Linked DNA regions of Homo sapiens. The protein of the gene in region 3 interacts with the protein of the main gene of each other region in a biochemical or structural test. Each region holds a gene or a part of one and is shown on either strand. Other genes may lie near its edges.

Region 1 (7,039 bases), on a different chromosome or scaffold from region 3:
AAAAAAAAAAAAAAGTAAATAAAAATTAAAAAAAAAATTAGCCAAGCGTGGTGACACACACCTGTAATCCCAGCTACTTAGGAGGCTAAGGTGGGAGAATCACCTGAGCCCAGGAGGTCAAGGCTGCAGTGAGCCTCACCACTGCACTCCAGCCTGGGCAACCAGAGTGAGACCCTGTCTTAAAACAAAAGCAAAACAAGAATCAAGGTCAGGGCTGGCTTCATGTGTGTGTGACGCATTCACTCTCACAGGGCCCCAGGCTTGGATGGGCTCTGCCTTTGGTTTTATGCTCTGCTGTCACTATCAGGAAATTCTTAATAATTATCGAACTTGAGACCCTACATTTTCACATTCACAAGGCCCTGCAAATTCTGTAGCAATTCCTGGGGAAAAACAACAGAATTGTAGGAAATACAACTTTAAAAGTGTGTCAAGCCTGCCGTGGTGAGATGGCACCATTGGGCCACCACTAGTTAGGATGTCTTGGCTGCAAGTGACAGAGGCTGAGCTGCCCTTGTGCATGGAATTGGAGGTCCTGTGGCAGGACTTTGGGAGCAACTCAGTCCCCCTCTCCTGGTCTGTTCCTGTGTCACTCTGGGCTGAATGGCTCTGGAACACACAGCCTGCTGGACATCTGGGAGTAATAGAGACAACTGCTTCCAGAAGAACTGATAAGAATATTCTCAGAAAGCCCAGCAGATCTTTTTTTCCCTTTGCCTTGTTATGAATTATGTCTCATGCTCATTCCGAAACCAATGAGTGGCAAGGAGTCTGGTTACTCTTAGACCTGGAGCTGACAGTGAGTTGACCAGAACTGAACAGCAGTCCTTCAGAAAGGAGGAAGGCGGATGGGTGCTGAGCAGGTAGCCAGCAGTATGCAAGCCTGAGCCAGGTGTGTGGTGTCTACTAGCTGCCCCCTTAGTTTCCAATCCACAGCCCTTTCTAACCAACTTCAACCCTTTAAAAAAATGTTTTCAAATGAATGTTTCAAATTGAATATTTTTAGATGCACTTTTTAGTTAGTTAGTTAGTTAGTTAGTTTTTTGAGACAGGGTCTTGCTCTGTTACCTAGGCTGTAGTGCAGTGGCTCAATCATAGCTCACTGCAGCCTTGACCTCCTGGGCTCAAGCAGTCCTCCCACTTAGCTTTCCCAGTAGCTGGGATTACAGGTGCCTGCCACCACATCTGGCTAATTTAAAATTTTTTGTAGAGAGTGGATTTCACCATGTTGCCCAGGCTGGTCTCAAACTCCTAGGCTCATGTAATCCTCCCACCTCAGCCTCCTAAAGTGCTGGGATTACAGGTGTGAGCCACTGTTCTCAACCAGGACAGGGTTATATGTGGCAGCATTTCAATTTTTTAATGGTTTTTTTTCTCTTTGATACGTGTATTAGTCCATTCTTGCATTGCTGTTAGGAAATACCTGGCCAGGCACAGTGGCTCATGTCTGTAATCCCAGCATTTTGGGAGGCTGAGGCGGGCAGATCATCTGAGGTTAGGTCCTGGTCAACATGGTGAAACCCCATATCCACTAAAAATACAAAAATTAGCTGGGTATGGTGGCATGTGCCTGTAATCCTGGCTACTTGGAAGGCTGAGGCAGGAGACTTGCTTGAACCCGGGAGGCAGAGGTTTCAGTGAGCGATCATGCCACTACACTCCAGCCTGGGTGATAGAGTGAGACTCTGTCTCAAAAAAAAAAAAAAGAAAAAAAGAAATACCTGAAGGCTGGATGAGGTGGCCCATGCCTGTAATCCTAGCACTTTGGGAGGCTAAGGCAGGTGGATGGCCTGAGCTCAGGAGTTCAAGACCAGCCTGGGCAACATGGCAAAACCCCAGCTCTACCAAAAATAGAAAAAATTAGACAGGCATGGTTCTTGGCATGTGCCTATGGTCCCAGCTACTCAGGTGGCTGAGGTGGAAGGATCGCTTGAGCCAGACAGAGGTGGAGGTTGCAGTGAGCCGATATCGTGCCACTGCACTCCAACCTGGGTGACAGAGTAAGACCGTATCTTAAAAAACAAACAAACAAACAAAACAGAAAACCTGAGATGAGGTAATTTAGGAAGAAGAGTTTTAATTGGCTCACAGTTCCGCAGGCTGTACAGGAAGTATGGCACTAGTGTCTGCTCTGCTTCAGAGGAGGGGAAACTCACACTCACTGTGGAAGGCAAACCGGGGTGGGGGGGCGGGGGGGGTGGCAGAGCAGGCATGTCACATGGCCAGAACAGGAGCAAGAGAGAGAACAAGGGGAGGTGCTCCACACTTTTATTTATTTATTTATTTATTTTTGAGACAGGGTCTCTGTCACCCAGGCTGGAGTGCAGTGGTGCAATTTCTGATCACTGCAGCCTCCGTCTCTCTGGTTCAACTGATTCTCCTGTGTCAGCCTCTGGAGTAGTGTGTGCCACCATGCCTGGCTACTTTTTTTTGTATTTTTAGTAGAGACGGGGTTTTGCCATGTTGCCAGGCTGGTCTTGAACTCCTGAGCTCAAGCGATCCACCCACTTGGGCCTCCCAAAGTGCTGGGATTACAGGCATGAGCCACTGTGCCTGGCCATGACACACTTTTTTTTTTGAGACAGAGTCTTGCTCTGTCGCCCAGGCTGGAGTGCAGTGGCACGATCTCGGCTCACTGCAAGCTCTGCCTCCCAGGTTCACACCATTCTCCAGCCTCAACCTCCCTGAGTAGCTGGGACTACAGGCGCCTGCCACCACACCCAGCTAATTTTTTGTATTTTTAGGAGAGACGGGGTTTCACCATGTTAGCCAGGATGGTCTCGATCTCCTGACCTCGTGATCCACCCGCCTTGGCCTCCCAAAGTGCTGGGATTACAGGCACAAAGTGAGCCACTGTGCCTGGCCCATGACATACTTTGAAACAACCAGATCTTGTGAGAAGAGGATAATACCAAGTGGATTGTACTAAACCAATCACTTCCCACCAGGCCCCACCCTCAACGTTGGAGATTACAATTTGACAAGAGTTTTGTGTGGGAACACAGATCCAAACTATATCAATACATATTTAACACATATATTTTGCAATACATGTACTTTAAAGAAAATTTGGAAAATACCTGGCTAAGCAGGGTGGCTCACGCCTGTAATCTCAGCACTTTGGGAGGCCGAGGTGGATGGATCACTTGAGGCCAGGAGTTTGAGACAAGCCTGGCCAACATGGCAAAACCCTGTCTCTCCTAAATATACAAACATTAGCCGGGCATATTAGTAGGTGCCTGTAATCTCAGCTACTCGGGAGGCTGAGGCATAAGAATCGCTTGAACCCAGGAGATGGAGGTTGCAGTGAACCAAGATGGCGCCACGGCACTCCAACCTGGGTGACAGAGCGAAATCCTGTCTCAAAAAAATAATAAAAATAAAATACATAATAAAAAAATAATAATAGAAAAAAAGAAAATTAAAGAAAATTTGGAAAATGCCCCCAAAATTCAGTTTTTAAAAAACTCATCTCTAGTCATCTAAAGTGGGGTCACTTTTTCTTGCTGGAATGTGTGCCATCCAGTTCCCCTCCTGGGGGCAACAAATGTTAAAGTATATATATATATATATATATATATATATACACACACATATATATACACATATGTATGTGTGTATATATATAACATATATACACACATATATATACACATATGTATGTGTGTATATATATAACATATATACTTATATGTGTGTATATACATATACGTACATATATATGTGTGGGTGTATATATATATATATTCTACCTATTCATGTAATTGTAGTTAACATTTTTGTGGATTTCTTTTCAGTGCCTTTGATGTGTATGTGTTTCAGATTGTTGTCATGTAGTGCATCAAATTTTATACTCTGCTTTTTTCTTGCCCTTTTCCTCTAATGTTGTATCATGACATTTTCTCCTGTTATTCTGTAGTCTTTAAAAACTAATTTTCAGTGGCTGCATAATACTTGGTTTAGTTTCTCAAAAAAAAGTTTAGTTAACTTCTGATTATAAAGGTAGTAATTGTTCTTTAAAGAAACTTGGGGCTGGGCGTGGTGGCTCAGGCCTGTAATCCCAGCACTTTGGGAGGCTGAGGCAGGAGGATCGCTTGAGGTCAGGAGTTTGAGACCAGCCTGGCCAACATGGTGAAACTCATCTCTACTACAAATACAAAAATTAGCTGGGCATGGTGGTGCGTTCCTGTAATCAGTCCCAGCTACTCTGGAGGGTGAGACACCAGAATTGCTTGAACCCAGTAGGCAGAGGTTGCAGTGAGCCGAGATGGTGCCAGTGTACTCCAGTCTGGGCAACACAGTGAGACCCTGTCTCTAAAAATAAAAATAAAAAATAAAGAGAACTTGGAAATAAGATAATACCATATTCATCTACTTCAAGATGAATATTTTTTCAAATGTTCACGTCTCTGAAATTGGGATGCTTCTTACAATAGCTGTCAGCCAGGTTACCTTCACTTAGATGTCACTATCTGTATGAGTAAACCATCATGGCAGTTCATTATGAGGTAAGTGCATTGCTGGTACTATATTTGTTGAGTTTAATTGTTTTAAAAATATTTTCAAAAAGATAGTGTGATTTAGCACTGAAAAGAAAAGCTTTTGTGAACACAGGCACAGAAACAGGACAACGACGAGTAAATTTCATAATAAGGGAGCAAATATTTGTTGTTGGAGGAAGGACTGGAATTTCCTAATTCCATGTCAAGCAACCAAATTCTTCATAGCCACAGAAAGGAAGGTACCACCTACCCTCAAGTTGGTGAGACTGGGTCATTTTTTTTTTTCTGGAATACGTGCAAATAGATTGTGTATCATGGGCCTTTGCAGAATAAGTATTCATGGCTTGAAAGAAAACTCCAGGAAGAGTAGTAGAGGACTCTAAGAATTGCCACATTACCATTGTTTTGGAAGACACAGAGGATGATATTGTGTAGACATCAATGACTCAGTGTTGGGCTCTGAATGGGAAGAAACTTTAGGAATACCTGAACAAACCAGTTTATTTATTTCACTTGTTTTTCCTTTTTTTTTTTTTTGTATTCATGAATGATACTTAACAAGAAACACACAAAGCTATGTTTAAGCCTAAAATAATTCTTTTGATAAAAGTAATTTTAATTTTTTAATTTTTTGAAACAGAATCTCACTCTGTCACACAGGCGCAGTCTTGGCTCACTGCAACCTCCACCTCCCGGGCTAAAGCAATTCTTTTTTTTTTTTCCCACAAGAAGAAAAAGTACATTTTATTTAATGACCAAGTACACACACACATTCACACACATGCATATGTACATATAACTAAAAAAAATATTTTTTCTCATCACATGGGATGCATTGTGAAATATTCTACATTCTTTCATTTAAAGAAAAATGCTGGTCACGTTTTAGTAAAAATCTTTCACAAATCACTAATATGTTACAATGCATAACTGCTCTAGAGCATTAACAATGCTAAGCTATAATTTTAGGGAAATATATAGTGGTGCTCCTTCTTAGAATTAGCCCATGTGGTATTTTAGGTACTCAACTCAGGGAAAAAAAAAATGTAACATAGCCTTGTTACCATGTATTCAGCCTGGACATGGTACATGCTTTCAGTGAGCTTAAATCACCTATCTTCCTAGGCCCAAGATCTGAGGGAATGACTTCCAACTACGTAACAGGACCCTTTGTCTGTATTATACATTTTATATGTCTTTTTATGTACATTGTTTCACTTGTTCCTCACAACAACCCTGTGAGGTAGGGAGGGGAAAATATCAGTTACGCTTTATAGATAATGAAGTTAAGGTTCAGAGAGGTTAAGTGACTTTCTCAGTTACCTAGTAAAAGGCAGAGACAGAATAAGAACTATTAACTTTTAGGTTGGGGGCCCTTTTCTCTAAACCACATAGCTTTGGAGAGTATATTCTAACCCAAAATATTTTTACTGCTTCATCCTCATTTTCTTATTATTAATTCAACTTTTTACAGAATACCATAAAAGACCTAATTCTAAATTCATCATGCTAAATTTATGCTTCTCTGTAAACTTATGGCCACAGAATACATATTTTTTTTTTTGGAAAGCACTGTCACTTTGGCCCTAAAGGAACATAAGCAATATAAAGGGCCCCAGAGGCCAAGGAAATTGAAGAGAAGTCAGAAGAAGGGATATAAAATGGAATGTGTTAACGGATTTTAGTCCCTTTAAGTTTGCACTTTTGTGAGAGGGTTCAATGGAGAGCTTTAATGCAGATGAGACTTGAAGCTTTTGAAGAAGATCTAAGTCTTGATGAGGTTATTCAAACTCAGATCTTGAACGCATAATGATGATAGGCCATGGTCTTCAAAAACGTGGTACTTGATGCTCTCCCACAGTGCCAGGACTGGAATGTCACAATACATATAGATTCATGTTTTTGTCCATTAATGGTCTGTGGGTTTCTTTAAATGAAGCCCATTTTAGAGTCCATAGATATCAGTGTTCTGCGAAACTGTTGGGGATTGGAGGCTCCCAAAAGACCCCAGATGCTCTGCCCTGCCCATGGCATCACCCTCTAAAGCGATTCTTGTGCCTCAGCCTCCTGAGTAGCTGGTTATAGGCACATGCCACCAAGCCCAGCTAAGTTTTGTATTTGTAGTAGAGACAGGGTTTCACCATGTTGGCCAAACTGGTCTCGAACTCCTGACATCAGGCGATCTGCCTACCTCGGCCTCCCAAAGTGCTGGGATTACCGGCATGAACCACTGTACACAGCCTGATAAAAGTAATTTTTAAATACAATTAAAGTTTATGTGCAAAGAAAGCATTTGTGTTAGTTTATTTGCCAGCATGTTTTTTTTTTCCTAATTGTATGTAAAGTAAAATTGTGTCTTATAAAGGATGGAGTCTTGGAGTTGACGAAACACCGTAAAGGAATAACTGAGTGTGTACCATGGTTTGCTTAACTCTTCTCTACTACTATTCAATACTTTAACTTACTTTCTCTTTTTCGGAACTTCTCACTTTTATCATTGTTACTTGTAATAGTAATTACTATATAAACTTAATCTA
Region 2 (7,039 bases), on a different chromosome or scaffold from region 3:
TTAACCCTTGGGAAGAACTGAAATTACATATATAATAAGAGTTCTAAGTTTTATTTTCTCAGGGTCCTCGTCCTGCTTTATTTGTGCCTGAGGTTTCATTTGAGTTACTGGTGAAGCGGCAAATCAAACGTCTAGAAGAGCCCAGCCTCCGCTGTGTGGAACTGGTTCATGAGGAAATGCAAAGGATCATTCAGCACTGTAGCAATTACAGTACACAGGTAACGGAGAGAAATGTAACAGGTTTCACATGAACTAGAAAAGGACATGAAGTGGTGGTTTCACTGGGTGGAAGGAAATGTATAAGATGGGATACAAGGTAAAATCTGTAGTTCCCTTACCTGAAAGTGATTTGAAATAGGATTCTTAAATGTAGTCTCCAAATTGAATTCAGTATTTCTGTGATCATTAAGTAAAAGAAAATGACTGTTAGCCTGGCATGGTGGCTTCTACATGTAGTCTCAGCTACTTGGGAGGCTAAGGTGGGAGGATGGCTTAGTGAGACTATGACTTAAAAAAAAAACAAAAAACAAACACGTTTTTCTTTCATCTACCATTTGTAGGAATTGTTACGATTTCCTAAACTTCATGATGCCATAGTTGAAGTGGTGACTTGTCTTCTTCGTAAAAGGTTGCCTGTTACAAATGAAATGGTGAGCTACTATAGCATAGATCATTGTAATTACTATTAGTAAAAGTTTAAATTTTTGCTTGGCTGCTTTTTAATAAGCATTATATGGTTACTTTAGAGTGTAGGCATAATGTTTTCCAGTGTATTGGGAGGAAAAACAAGTTGAGTTTCAGTCTCATTTTAAAGGAAAATTTTTAATAATTCTGGTATAAAGTGCATTTTTTCTTCATATTTTAATCATTGTTAGCCTGCAGGCATGGGTTTTCTTGAAAATAGATTTATGATTGAGGGGTGTGAATAGCTTTGCTGTATTATTTAGTACCACTGATCTTAAGAGAAAATTAGTTCCATCTTTAGCCTCAGTAAACTGAGCATTTATAGCACACTGTTACTTTGAGGTACATCGGAGTAATCTGGCCACTTCTGCAGTTTGCTTGTTATGACCTAATAACTATAATATCGTAGTTGCTTGCTACTATTCTGTGGGTTGCTGCTATCCACACAAATAAAAATGCTGAAATTGGCAGAAATATGGGATAAGCATTTAAAATTGCCCTCATGCCTCTAATTGTTGGCTGGGTTTTTTGTTTTTTGTTTTCTTTCTGATCACTAAAAGTGCATTTGGGTCCTTGGCTCAGGATGGTGAACCCCGTGGAGGTTTACTAAGAGTACAAAACCATCCTTGGAATGTAAGTGCTGCTGCTTGGTTGTTTCTTTAGCAAGGATAGCCCTCAGATTCTGATGTCTAAGACTGAATTTAGCCCAGAATCATTGGACCTTCATTTTAATAGACCCTTTTTACCCAGTTCTGGACTGATAAGTGCTGTTCTGATACCTGAGATTTGTTAGGACAGCACATAATAAAGGGCTCAAGTTTATTCTCTCTGTAAGACTCAGTGGTGTGGTGGCTCACACCTGTAATCCCAACACTTTGGGAAGTCGAGGCGGGTGGATCACTTGAGGTCGGAAGTTTGAGACCAGCCTGACCAACATGGAGAAACCCCCTCTCTACTAAAAATACAAAATTAGCCGGGCGTGGTGGTGCATGCCTGTAATCCCAGCTACTGGGGAGGCTGAGGCAGGCAGGAGAATCACTTGAACCTGGGAGGTGGAGGCTGCGGTGAGCCGAGATCGCGCCATTGCACTCCAGCCTGGGCAATGAGAGCGAAACTCCGTCTCAAACAAACAAACAAACAAAAAGACTTAGCAATTCTGTAGAGGGCTGGATAAATTAATTTTAACTTTTCTTTTTTATTTTCCTCTTAGGATTTTGAACTACATATAATATTTTAACTAGGTGCTTTATAGTTAAGGCTAATCAGTCACTACCTCAGGTCCTTAGATGTATCCTTTACCCAAATAAGTTAACATCTTTAACTTATGCCTTGTTACGAACTTATTTTCTTATTGTTGAAAATGAACTAAAAAAGTGACAGGGAATAGTGGATGATCTGAAGTTTTAATAGCAAAGTTGCATAAAGTGTTGGAATTTAGATTTGCATTAGGTAGATGACTATTTTTCCCTAAGAGTAAAATACTTGTAGTTACTTTAATGTTATTTTTCCCTCTTAGAAATGCAGTTTTAGATGCTGAAATGTAAATAATTTTAAAGCTAGAGTAAATTATTGTTTGGCATAAGATTTATCAGTTGGAATATAATTATCAAGTAATTTAGGCATAAGTTTCCTGTACTTTTTCGGTATTGTCTGTTTCATAAGTTTTATATATAAATTTCTCAAAGTAAAATATGGTTGATGTATTTTTGTATATCGCCTAACTTACTTTTTTTCTAGGTCCATAACTTAGTGGCAATTGAACTGGCTTATATCAACACAAAACATCCAGACTTTGCTGATGCTTGTGGGCTAATGAACAATAATATAGAGGTAAATATAATTCTTAAATGCTTTTTCACAGGTAGAAAAATCTGTTGTAACTCAGTTATATCAAACTTATTTAGCATGGAGTAACTATAAAATAGACATGTGCCACATTAGTGCCTGCTGCATGTCAGGAAATATGCTGAGGGGATTACATTGTTTTCTTAATTCTCAAAACCACCTGCAGGCATTATTACTTTCTGCTTATGAAATTGAAATTCAGAAAGAATCTGAAAATTCATTGATTTGGTGTGACTGGCTCTATTTTGGTAACTTATAGTTTATACAGGGGAAGTGTGTACAACAAAGTATTTAAAATTCTTTTCATTTGGCTTTGAAAGCTGTGAAGGAAACACTCAAGAATTAACCAACTTAGCATAAATTTGGAAAAGCAGAGTGCTTTTTTCACCACTACTGGGGTGGCTGCATTTCATGGATCTTTTCTTTCCTTTTGATTTTAATGTAACAAATTGAATAAGATCTCAGATGGAGCCAAGGCTGGTGGACAGAGCAATTTATCCAGAAGCCATTTTTTTTCTCTGCCGCTTTTCTCCAAAAATAGTACATTTTTCTGCTACTCCCTAATTCAGTAAGACCTGAGTCCCCTGCTATACCAAATTTCCTCTTCTGCATATCCATGGTGAGAAAATTGTAAACATGCAATTCAGAAGCTGGAAGGGATCCTGTGTTATTGACTTCAACTCTGGTTAAAACAGATGGGGTGGCCAGACGTGGTGGCTCATGCCTGTAATCCCAGCAATTTGGGAGGTCAAGGCAGGTGGATCACCTGACATCAGGAGTTTGAGACCAGCCTGGCCAACATGGTGAAACCCCGTCTCTACTAAAAATACAAAAAATTAGCCGGGCTTGGTGGCAGGTGCCTGTAATCTGAGCTACTAGGGAGGCTGAGGCAGGAGAATCAACTTGAACCCAGGAGGTGGAGGTTGCAGTGAGCTGAGATCGCGCCATTGCACTCCAGCCTGGGCAACAAGGGCGAAACTCCATCTTAAAAAAAAACTGGGGAGCTTGAGGCTTACAGATAGCAGTTATTCCTTTGGTGCTTATTTTGCAGGGCACTATTATAGGAAGCAAGCACCTTCTTAACACAGGTATAGGGAACTAATTTTTGGTTACATAGCTGGGGGTGATTCCTGTTATCAGAAAAAATTCCAAAATGCATACATGAGTAGGCACTTCAAAACACTCAGAAAGTAGGCCAGATCACAGTTATGTTAAAAATTAGCATGTAGACACTTAAAGGATTTAGTTTTTTTTACATTGAAACTAACATCATGAAAAACTTGTGTTTGCGGTAGTTCTGTTACACTGACAAGGTCATATGTGATATGATTTCAGATTAGTATTTTTCTACAAATGAATAGGTTTCTGGTTTTAATGACTGTGCCAGAGAACTTTATGTGGATATTTTCATTTAATCTTTACCATACCCTGAGGGCAGATCATGTCATTAACAGATTAGGACACTAGGGCTTCAAAATAGTTGGTAAGCTGTCCAGTTAGCAAAGCAGGTACTCCACATCTGCTGGGGTCCAGGAGCAGCTCAGATCATAACTGGTTAGTAACAGACTAGGGTGAGAATTCTAGATACCGTGGCCTTTTGCTTTGTATCCCTGTTCAAAATGTACATTTTATCATGCTAATTTTTTATTTTGAAGATTGTTAATATCTATACTTTTATTATCTGTTATTTTTTATTACTGAATACCCGCCCATGAAAAAATAAAATTGGGTCAAATTTCTGTCAAAAAAAATTATTACACATGAAACATCACTGTGGGCTGTGTGCGGTGGCTCATGCCTGTAATCCCAGCACTTTGGTAGGCCGAGGCAGGCTGATCACCTGAGGTCAGGAGTTCAAGTCTAGCCTGGCCAACGTGGCAAAACTGTCTCTACTAAAAATAGAAAAATTAGCCGGGGGTGGTGGATGCCTGTAATCCCAGCTAGTAGGGAGGCTGCAGCAGGGAGAATCCATTGAATCCAGGAGGCGGAGGTTGCAGTGAGCCAAGATCACACCACTGCACTCCAGCCTGGGCGACAGAGCGAGACTCCATTTCAACAAAAAACAAAAACAAAATCATTGTGAGGCTTTAACTTATATTTTTTTGCAAGTTGGACTGTGTTCATGAAATACTTCCTACTTAGGAGCAATTGTGACTTTAACCTAAATAGTTTCTACTTTATCTGATGCTGCCTGTGAGAGATCCATCATTAATTAACATCTACAGATTTCTATATCTTCATAATCTTTTTTTTTTTTTTTTTTTTTTAAGACAGAGTCTCACTCTGTCGCCCAGGCTGGAGTGCAGTGGCATGAGCTCTGCTCACTGCAACCTCTGCCTCCTGGGTTCAAGCAGTTCTCCTGCCGCAGCCTCCTGAGTAGCTGGGATTACAGGTGTGCGGCACCATGCCTGGCTAATTTTTATATTTTTAGTAGAGACAGGGTTTCACCATTTTGGCCAGGCTGGTCTTGAACTGCCCTCAAGTGATCTGCCCACCTTGGCCTCCCAAAGTGCTGGGATTACAAGCATGAGGCACTGTGCCCGGCCAATATTTTCATAATCTTTTACCTATCTTGGTGCTTGGATATAGCAGATGCTCGGGACATTCTAATTTGAATTTGTCAGTTTCTTTAGCTTTGTACAAGTTACTTTGATAATATTAGCAAATTAGAACAGTAGGCAATTGATCAGTGTGTTAAATTAGCCAGGTTACAGAAAGGACTAGCAGTTGTCAACACTATTTCCTGGAGGAAGAAATGGAACATTTTTATAGGATAACCTCAACCACAGATACTTCTTCAAGATACGGTTTTATGAGGGGAGTTGTTTGAGTTTAACACAAAGGTGTTCAGGTTAGAGTGACTTTTAAAGGCTTTGCGGAGTTTTCTGTGATCTCTGGACTTCAAATTCCACATGGTTATGTTGAAGGCTTACCACGTTCCACATTTATGTGAGGACAGTTTACATCACTGTTTCTTAGTGGGAAAGGGGGAGAAGATGGCAGTCTGTTGCCCCTCATTTGAGAATCCCCAGTACAGGGAGCCACTGTTACTGACAGTGTATTGTATCCTTCAGGTGTGTGGGCAGAAAAAAAAAAGATTAAGAAGCTTTGGGTTAAATGATTTCTTATTTATTTTAAAATATGATAATTATGGCATGAGTCCCAACAGTGAGAGGATGTATCTGTAAGTTACTCCACACTTTTCAATTAACATGAACATTTTTTAGTAGGCATATATCTCAATACTTGGATAATCACTTTTGTTTTGCTTGTGTTTCTTAGGAACAAAGGAGAAACAGGCTAGCCAGAGAATTACCTTCAGCTGTATCACGAGACAAGGTAAAAAAATGTTTTTAATGCATATTCCCAATACCTAAAGATAGATTGATGAGCTCAGAATATTACTCAGTCCTAGGAGTAATTTTTTCTTCTTTTCCTCCCTTTAACACTCCATTGGAACTAACTGAGTAAAGGCATACAAGTTTAAAATGGGTTTTGAGTGATTTAAAGATAATAGTATTTTGAATTCACTGACATAAATGCTTAAAAGTAGATTTAAGCATTTATTTAAGCATTTAAGCATCAAGCTTTTTAAAAAAATTCAGTCAGTGACTTTATCAACTTTGCACATAGCTGAAATGACTCAAGATTTTATTATAATAAGAGGGTTTCTTGGAAAAAACAGTATGCACAGAACAGAGGTTTTAATTACTAGTAATAATTAAAATAGTTGTAATACTAAAGTGTGTATAAAAATCTTTTACCTTGAATTCTTTGCCAGAAAAGAATCTTATTAAATACCAAAAATAAAAATGAAGCTTTTGGATTTGGATTTTTCTTATGTATTCATCTGAAGGAAACTTTTAACAAAGGTGACAATGGTGAAGGAAATAAGGCAGAATAAACAATCTCCCATGATTATTTTCATCTTTCATGTTATTTTACGATTTCATTACAGAAGGGAAAAATTCATTTATAGAATGTTCCTGAATGCATTTTTGCATCCTTGATTTTTTTTCCCCCCTGGATTTTTTGCCTTTAGTCTTCTAAAGTTCCAAGTGCTTTGGCACCTGCCTCCCAGGAGCCCTCCCCCGCTGCTTCTGCTGAGGCTGATGGCAAGGTCTGTTCTGATTCTTAATCTAAGCCTGCATGCCTTGTTCTCTGGTACAACATAATCTTCTGGAAACAATACACTGAATAGAAGAATATTAATATGGGATACTGTGCTAAGGTCAGATCACTTTAGTCTAATATATATTTTAAAATTATATAACAATGCAATGCATAGTTTATATTGTTGACATGCTTTTGCTTGCAATATAGAAGATGCACACAGAAAAAGTAATTTAAAGAGGAAATTATCCTGCACTTTTTGAATTTCAACCCATTGGTATTTAAATTTTGCTTGTTAAATTGCATGTTTTAACATATCTTTTAACAGTTAATTCAGGACAGCAGAAGAGAAACTAAAAATGTGAGTCTCTTGCTTCAGAATGGAAATGTTGGTACC
Region 3 (6,204 bases):
TTTAACCCACATAAAAATCCTGTGAAATTGCATTTTCCCTGTCCTTTATGGTTTTGGAACCTGAGACTCAGATAAATGAAGTTGTCCCAAGTCACAGTGGATGCATTGGCGCTAGATTAAACTCCAGATCTTTCTGATCATATTCTCCCTCTTCCCCCTTTAAAATTCGAATTGGCCATCCTGTGGTGGATACTTTACTAGCTGTCTCACTTTGGGCAAATCACTTCACCTCTCTGAGCCTGTTTCCTTGTCTGTAATTGGTGATAATAATGTCTACCGTAAAGGGATGGTGTGGGCATTAAGTGGTTTATGCATTTAAAGTGCCTAGCATATTGCCTGGTACATAGTATATTTAAATGCTTACTTATTCATTAATTTATTAATCAAATAATGTATTAAATGCTTGCTGTGTGTCAGGCACAGTTCTCCGCACTAGGGGGATAGCAGTGAACAGGACAAACAGTGTCCAAGCCCTCCTAGAGTTTAACATTCTAGTGGAGGGAGACAGATAATGAGTAAATTGTTAGTTGTTATTGCTGTCATTTTGGTATCTTCACAGTGTAAGTGGCTAAGAAATTTTGATTGACCTTGCTCCTGTCACTTACTGTGTAGCAGTAGCTTAAACTCAGAGTGACCTTCATATACATCTTGTATCACATCACCTCTTTAGAGGTTACTGAATCTGGCATCCTTAAGAGTTGTTTTTGGGAATACCCTGAAAGCAGAGATGGTCCTTTATTCGTCCTGAATCTCTGACACCCAGCACAGTGCCTGGCACAAAGATGCTCAGGAAATGATTGTTGATTTTATTCCTTTTCTCTTATTTTTGAAACAGCAGTAACAGGATTGGTTTCCCAAGTGCAGTGGGTTGGACGCTCTGAGTTGGAAGGCAGAGGAGAACTAGGGATTGTTAGAGGAAGACAGCAGCAGAAAGAACCGTGCTCACTTAATTATGAGCATGAAAAAGGCAAAAAGTAGAACAGACTGGGTGCGGTGGCTCACACCCGTAATCCCAGCACTTTGGGAGGCCGAGGCAGGAGGATCGCTTGAGCTCAGGAGCTCAACACCAGCCTGGGCAACATTGGGAGACCCTGTCTCTGCAAAATAAAAAAATTAGACAGGTGTGGTGGTGCATGCCTATGGCCTCAGCAACTTGGGGGCCTGAGGTGGGAGGATCACTTGAGCCTGGGAGGTTGAGGCTGCAGTGAGCCATGATTGCACTACTGCACTCCAGTCTGGGTATAACAGTGAGACCCCATCTCAAAAAAAAAAAAAAATGTAGAATGGCATTTGGCACCAGTTAACAGTCTTCCTGTTGAAGCAAAGGCAACTCCCCCTGCTTTGTTTTTTTAATAACATACAATGCAGAGCATTGGTTCGTAAAGATGTGGTAATATTAATAATAACACCTACCAGTTCTCAAACCACTGCCATGTGCTAGGTGATAGGTTAGGTACTTTATACCTGAACCCTTTGGATCATAGCTCTGTGTTGTCAGGAAGAGATTGAATGATGTTCAGTCTGTGGTATGTAAATTGACTAGTACCTTTTATATTTTCACTAAAAAGTCTTAACATGAAAAGGAGTATAGGTTTTGGTTAACTGGAACAAGAATGTATGTGGCACCCCCATTCTGCAGTGATGGAAGAGGCAGAGGCATGGCTCCATTCCTGTTGATGTACACAGCTTTGAAATCTGATTCTCAGTAGTCACCTTCCTGTCCAATTTCCATATTCTCTTGACACGAAAAAAATAGAATCTTTTTCTTTTTTTTGCCTGTAAGTTTGATTGAGCATGTCAGTGTTCAATGGCCAATTAATTTAATTTTTTTTTTTTATTTAGGGAGCTAAAAAAGTTCATTTGGGTGAAGATTTAAAGAGTATTCTTTCAGAAGCTCCAGGAAAATGCGTGCCTTATGCTGTTATAGAAGGTATGTTTGCTTATTGGTCAATGGAAAACAACGTCTTTTTCCCAAAAGATTGATAAAGATCATCTTGGCTAATATGAAGAGCCTTTTGTGGTGTTGGGTCCATGGTCCAGAACATACTTTGGGGTCAGAAAGACATGGGTTATTGCTTTGTGATCGCTAAGATTACCAAACCTCCCTGAACCACTGTTGCCTGATCTCGAAAATAATACTTACCTTTATGGGGTTGTTATAAGACAAATTATGTGATCCATGCAAAGTGCTTAGGAGAGTGCTTCTAAAATGTGACTTATGGTGATCAGAATGTCATTGTTTTGATGAATTAGCAAAAGTCAACTGAAAACACTTAATTTTTAACATTTTTTAAATTAAAAAAAAAATTTTTTTTTGAGGCCAGGTGTGGTAGCTCATGCCTGTAATCCCAGCACTTTGGGAGGCTGAGATGGGCTGATCACTTGAGCTCAGGAGTTTGAGACCAGCCTGGTCGACATGATGAAACCCCGTCTCTACTAAAAATACAAAAATTAGCTGGATGTGGTGGCACATACCCGTAATCCCAGCTACTCGGGGGGCTGAGGCAGGAGAATTGCTTGAACCCGGGAGGCGGAGGTTGCAGTGAGCCAAGATTGCACCACTGTACTCCAGCCTGGGTAACAGAGTGAGACTCCGTCTCAAATAGAGTCTTGGCTCTGTCACCCAGGTAGCTGTAGTATGGTGGTGTGATCATAGCTCACTGCAGCCTCAAACTCCTGAGCTCAAGTGATTCTCCTGCCTCAGCCTCCCAAGTATCTGGGACTACAGGCACATGCCACCACACCCTGCTAACTTTTTAATTTTTTGTAAAGATGGAATCTCACTGTGTTAACCAGGCTGGTCTCAAACTCGTGGCCCCAAGTGATCCTTCTGACTTGGCTTCCCAAAGTGTTGGGATTATAGGTGTGACCTACTGTGCCAGACCAGAAAACACATTTTAAATTATCTGAAAGGAGAGGGCAGAAAACTTCTTCAGAAATAATAGAATTTGTGTCCACTTAGGAGCTGTGCGGTCTGTTAAAGAAACGCTTAACAGCCAGTTTGTGGAAAACTGCAAGGGGGTAATTCAGCGGCTGACACTTCAGGAGCACAAGATGGTGTGGAATCGAACCACCCACCTTTGGTATGTATCACTTCTCCACTGGCCAAAACCCTTGCAGTTGGTCTATTCAAATGCTGGGGTCCTGGGTGCTGTTGCCGTGACTTCAGCTTCTCCTGAGACAGGTTGAAGCCCAGTCTCTTAATGCAGGTCATATTCTTGTGTGTAGCCTGTGGGCCTCCTATGTCGGAATCACCGAGGCATCTTGTTGAAATGCAGATTTCTGAGCTCCCTTCAGTCCCTGAAGTGGATAAGTCAGTCCCTGGTGACTTATCCAACCAGAATTTCCAGGATCAGGGACCTGGAATCTGTTGTTAGGCACACTGAAGTTTGAGAACCACTGAATCAGTGATTTCAGTATTTCCTAAAATGCTTTTGTGCCATCATATGAAATATCAGTTTTCCAACTGGTCCTAGTGAGTTTTGTTTTAGATGTTTGTTTTACAGTGGAAAGGGAAATGATAGTCTGTGGCGGTTATTTGTTGCCCACTGATATCGCCCCAGGACCTACAAATGGAGCCTCCTTGTTAGGAGGCAACTGGAGATAGTGATCTTACTGTCTTCTTCCAGTTACTTCAGACCATATGCTGTCCTCCACATTTAGTTGATCTCCAGTTCTGCCTGGGTGTTTGCTGTTTGCTACCCTGTATCTTTAGTTCTCTTATTCTTCTAGGAATGATTGCTCAAAGATCATTCATCAGAGGACCAACACAGTGCCCTTTGACCTGGTGCCCCACGAGGATGGCGTGGATGTGGCTGTGCGAGTGCTGAAGCCCCTGGACTCAGTGGATCTGGGTCTAGAGACTGTGTATGAGAAGTTCCACCCCTCGATTCAGTCCTTCACCGATGTCATCGGCCACTACATCAGCGGTGAGCGGCCCAAAGGCATCCAAGAGACCGAGGAGATGCTGAAGGTGGGGGCCACCCTCACAGGGGTTGGCGAACTGGTCCTGGACAACAACTCTGTCCGCCTGCAGCCGCCCAAACAAGGCATGCAGTACTATCTAAGCAGCCAGGACTTCGACAGCCTGCTGCAGAGGCAGGAGTCGAGCGTCAGGCTCTGGAAGGTGCTGGCGCTGGTTTTTGGCTTTGCCACATGTGCCACCCTCTTCTTCATTCTCCGGAAGCAGTATCTGCAGCGGCAGGAGCGCCTGCGCCTCAAGCAGATGCAGGAGGAGTTCCAGGAGCATGAGGCCCAGCTGCTGAGCCGAGCCAAGCCTGAGGACAGGGAGAGTCTGAAGAGCGCCTGTGTAGTGTGTCTGAGCAGCTTCAAGTCCTGCGTCTTTCTGGAGTGTGGGCACGTTTGTTCCTGCACCGAGTGCTACCGCGCCTTGCCAGAGCCCAAGAAGTGCCCTATCTGCAGACAGGCGATCACCCGGGTGATACCCCTGTACAACAGCTAATAGTTTGGAAGCCGCACAGCTTGACCTGGAAGCACCCCTGCCCCCTTTTCAGGGATTTTTATCTCGAGGCCTTTGGAGGAGCAGTGGTGGGGGTAGCTGTCACCTCCAGGTATGATTGAGGGAGGAATTGGGTAGAAACTCTCCAGACCCATGCCTCCAATGGCAGGATGCTGCCTTTCCCACCTGAGAGGGGACCCTGTCCATGTGCAGCCTCATCAGAGCCTCACCCTGGGAGGATGCCGTGGCGTCTCCTCCCAGGAGCCAGATCAGTGCGAGTGTGACTGAAAATGCCTCATCACTTAAGCACCAAAGCCAGTGATCAGCAGCTCTTCTGTTCCTGTGTCTTCTGTTTTTTTCTGGTGAATCGTTGCTTGCTGTGGACTTGGTGGAGGACTCAGAGGGGAGGAAAGGCTGGGCCCCGAGTACAACGGATGCCTTGGGTGCTGCCTCCGAAGAGACTCTGCCGCAGCTTTTCTTCTTTTTCCTCATGCCCCGGGAAACAGTCTTTCTTCAGAATTGTCAGGCTGGGCAGGTCAACTTGTGTTCCTTTCCCCTCACCTGCTTGCCTCCTTAACGCCTGCACGTGTGTGTAGAGGACAAAAGAAAGTGAAGTCAGCACATCCGCTTCTGCCCAGATGGTCGGGGCCCCGGGCAACAGATTGAAGAGAGATCATGTGAAGGGCAGTTGGTCAGGCAGGCCTCCTGGTTTCGCCACTGGCCCTGATTTGAACTCCTGCCACTTGGGAGAGCTCGGGGTGGTCCCTGGTTTTCCCTCCTGGAGAATGAGGCGCAGAGGCCTCGCCTCCTGAAGGACGCAGTGTGGATGCCACTGGCCTAGTGTCCTGGCCTCACAGCTTCCTTGCAAGGCTGTCACAAGGAAAAGCAGCCGGCTGGCACCCTGAGCATATGCCCTCTTGGGGCTCCCTCATCCAGCCCGTCGCAGCTTTGACATCTTGGTGTACTCATGTCGCTTCTCCTTGTGTTACCCCCTCCCAGTATTACCATTTGCCCCTCACCTGCCCTTGGTGAGCCTTTTAGTGCAAGACAGATGGGGCTGTTTTCCCCCACCTCTGAGTAGTTGGAGGTCACATACACAGCTCTTTTTTTATTGCCCTTTTCTGCCTCTGAATGTTCATCTCTCGTCCTCCTTTGTGCAGGCGAGGAAGGGGTGCCCTCAGGGGCCGACACTAGTATGATGCAGTGTCCAGTGTGAACAGCAGAAATTAAACATGTTGCAACCAAGTGCTAGCCTGTTGCTTTGTTAACAGGAGTTAAATGGCTAAGCCTAAGTGTCCCCAGGATGGGATTGAATCCCTGCCACAATGGAGTGAAAGGTGGGGGAGTTTGAGGCCTCTGTGTTCTTTTCCTCGGCTATAGTGGTTTGGGGCTCCCCCAGATGGGGTGATGCAGAGGCCGGCCGGGATGCCTGCCCCCTGGGGAGGAATCTGGACAGCCCACCCGTGGGTCATATCTGGCCTTGCTGACCATCTTTGAAGTCTGTCCCGACAGCCTACAAATCAGGGCAGTGAGATTTCACCTGCTGGGAGAATGGGATGGGGATGGGGTGCTGGGGGACAGCAGAGAGGAAATGAGCATTTAGCAATACTGTGTATGAGGTACTGTGCCGTGTGCTGTTTCAAACTCATTTCAGAGTGAGTTCATCCTCACAAAACCCCTGCAGGCCGAGTCCCGGTGTCTGTGCTGTACAGGTGAGGAAGTAGGCCCAGAGGGTACATTCACTG

What was found. The genes of interacting proteins can lie anywhere in the genome.
Region 1: the proteins of MUL1 (region 3) and UBE2D4 form a complex in vitro, tested with the Homo sapiens proteins (one study listed by BioGRID).
Region 2: of the proteins of MUL1 (region 3) and DNM1L, one has a biochemical effect on the other in vitro, tested with the Homo sapiens proteins (one study listed by BioGRID).

The regions. Positions count from the first base shown.
Region 1 is NC_000007.14:43,929,429-43,936,467, forward strand, and holds part of UBE2D4 (ubiquitin-conjugating enzyme E2 D4), read left to right. Parts: intron 1-7,039. UniProt on the Homo sapiens protein: Accepts ubiquitin from the E1 complex and catalyzes its covalent attachment to other proteins. In vitro able to promote polyubiquitination using all 7 ubiquitin Lys residues, but may prefer 'Lys-11' and 'Lys-48'-linked polyubiquitination.
Region 2 is NC_000012.12:32,731,294-32,738,332, forward strand, and holds part of DNM1L (dynamin-1-like protein), read left to right. Parts: intron 1-62; coding exon 63-218; intron 219-560; coding exon 561-650; intron 651-2,421; coding exon 2,422-2,514; intron 2,515-5,811; coding exon 5,812-5,868; intron 5,869-6,571; coding exon 6,572-6,649; intron 6,650-6,970; coding exon 6,971-7,003; intron 7,004-7,039. UniProt on the Homo sapiens protein: Functions in mitochondrial and peroxisomal division.
Region 3 is NC_000001.11:20,498,948-20,505,151, reverse strand, and holds the end of MUL1 (mitochondrial ubiquitin ligase activator of NFKB 1), read left to right. Parts: intron 1-1,842; coding exon 1,843-1,930; intron 1,931-2,962; coding exon 2,963-3,083; intron 3,084-3,732; coding exon 3,733-4,462; 3' UTR 4,463-5,704; downstream 5,705-6,204. UniProt on the Homo sapiens protein: Exhibits weak E3 ubiquitin-protein ligase activity. E3 ubiquitin ligases accept ubiquitin from an E2 ubiquitin-conjugating enzyme in the form of a thioester and then directly transfer the ubiquitin to targeted substrates.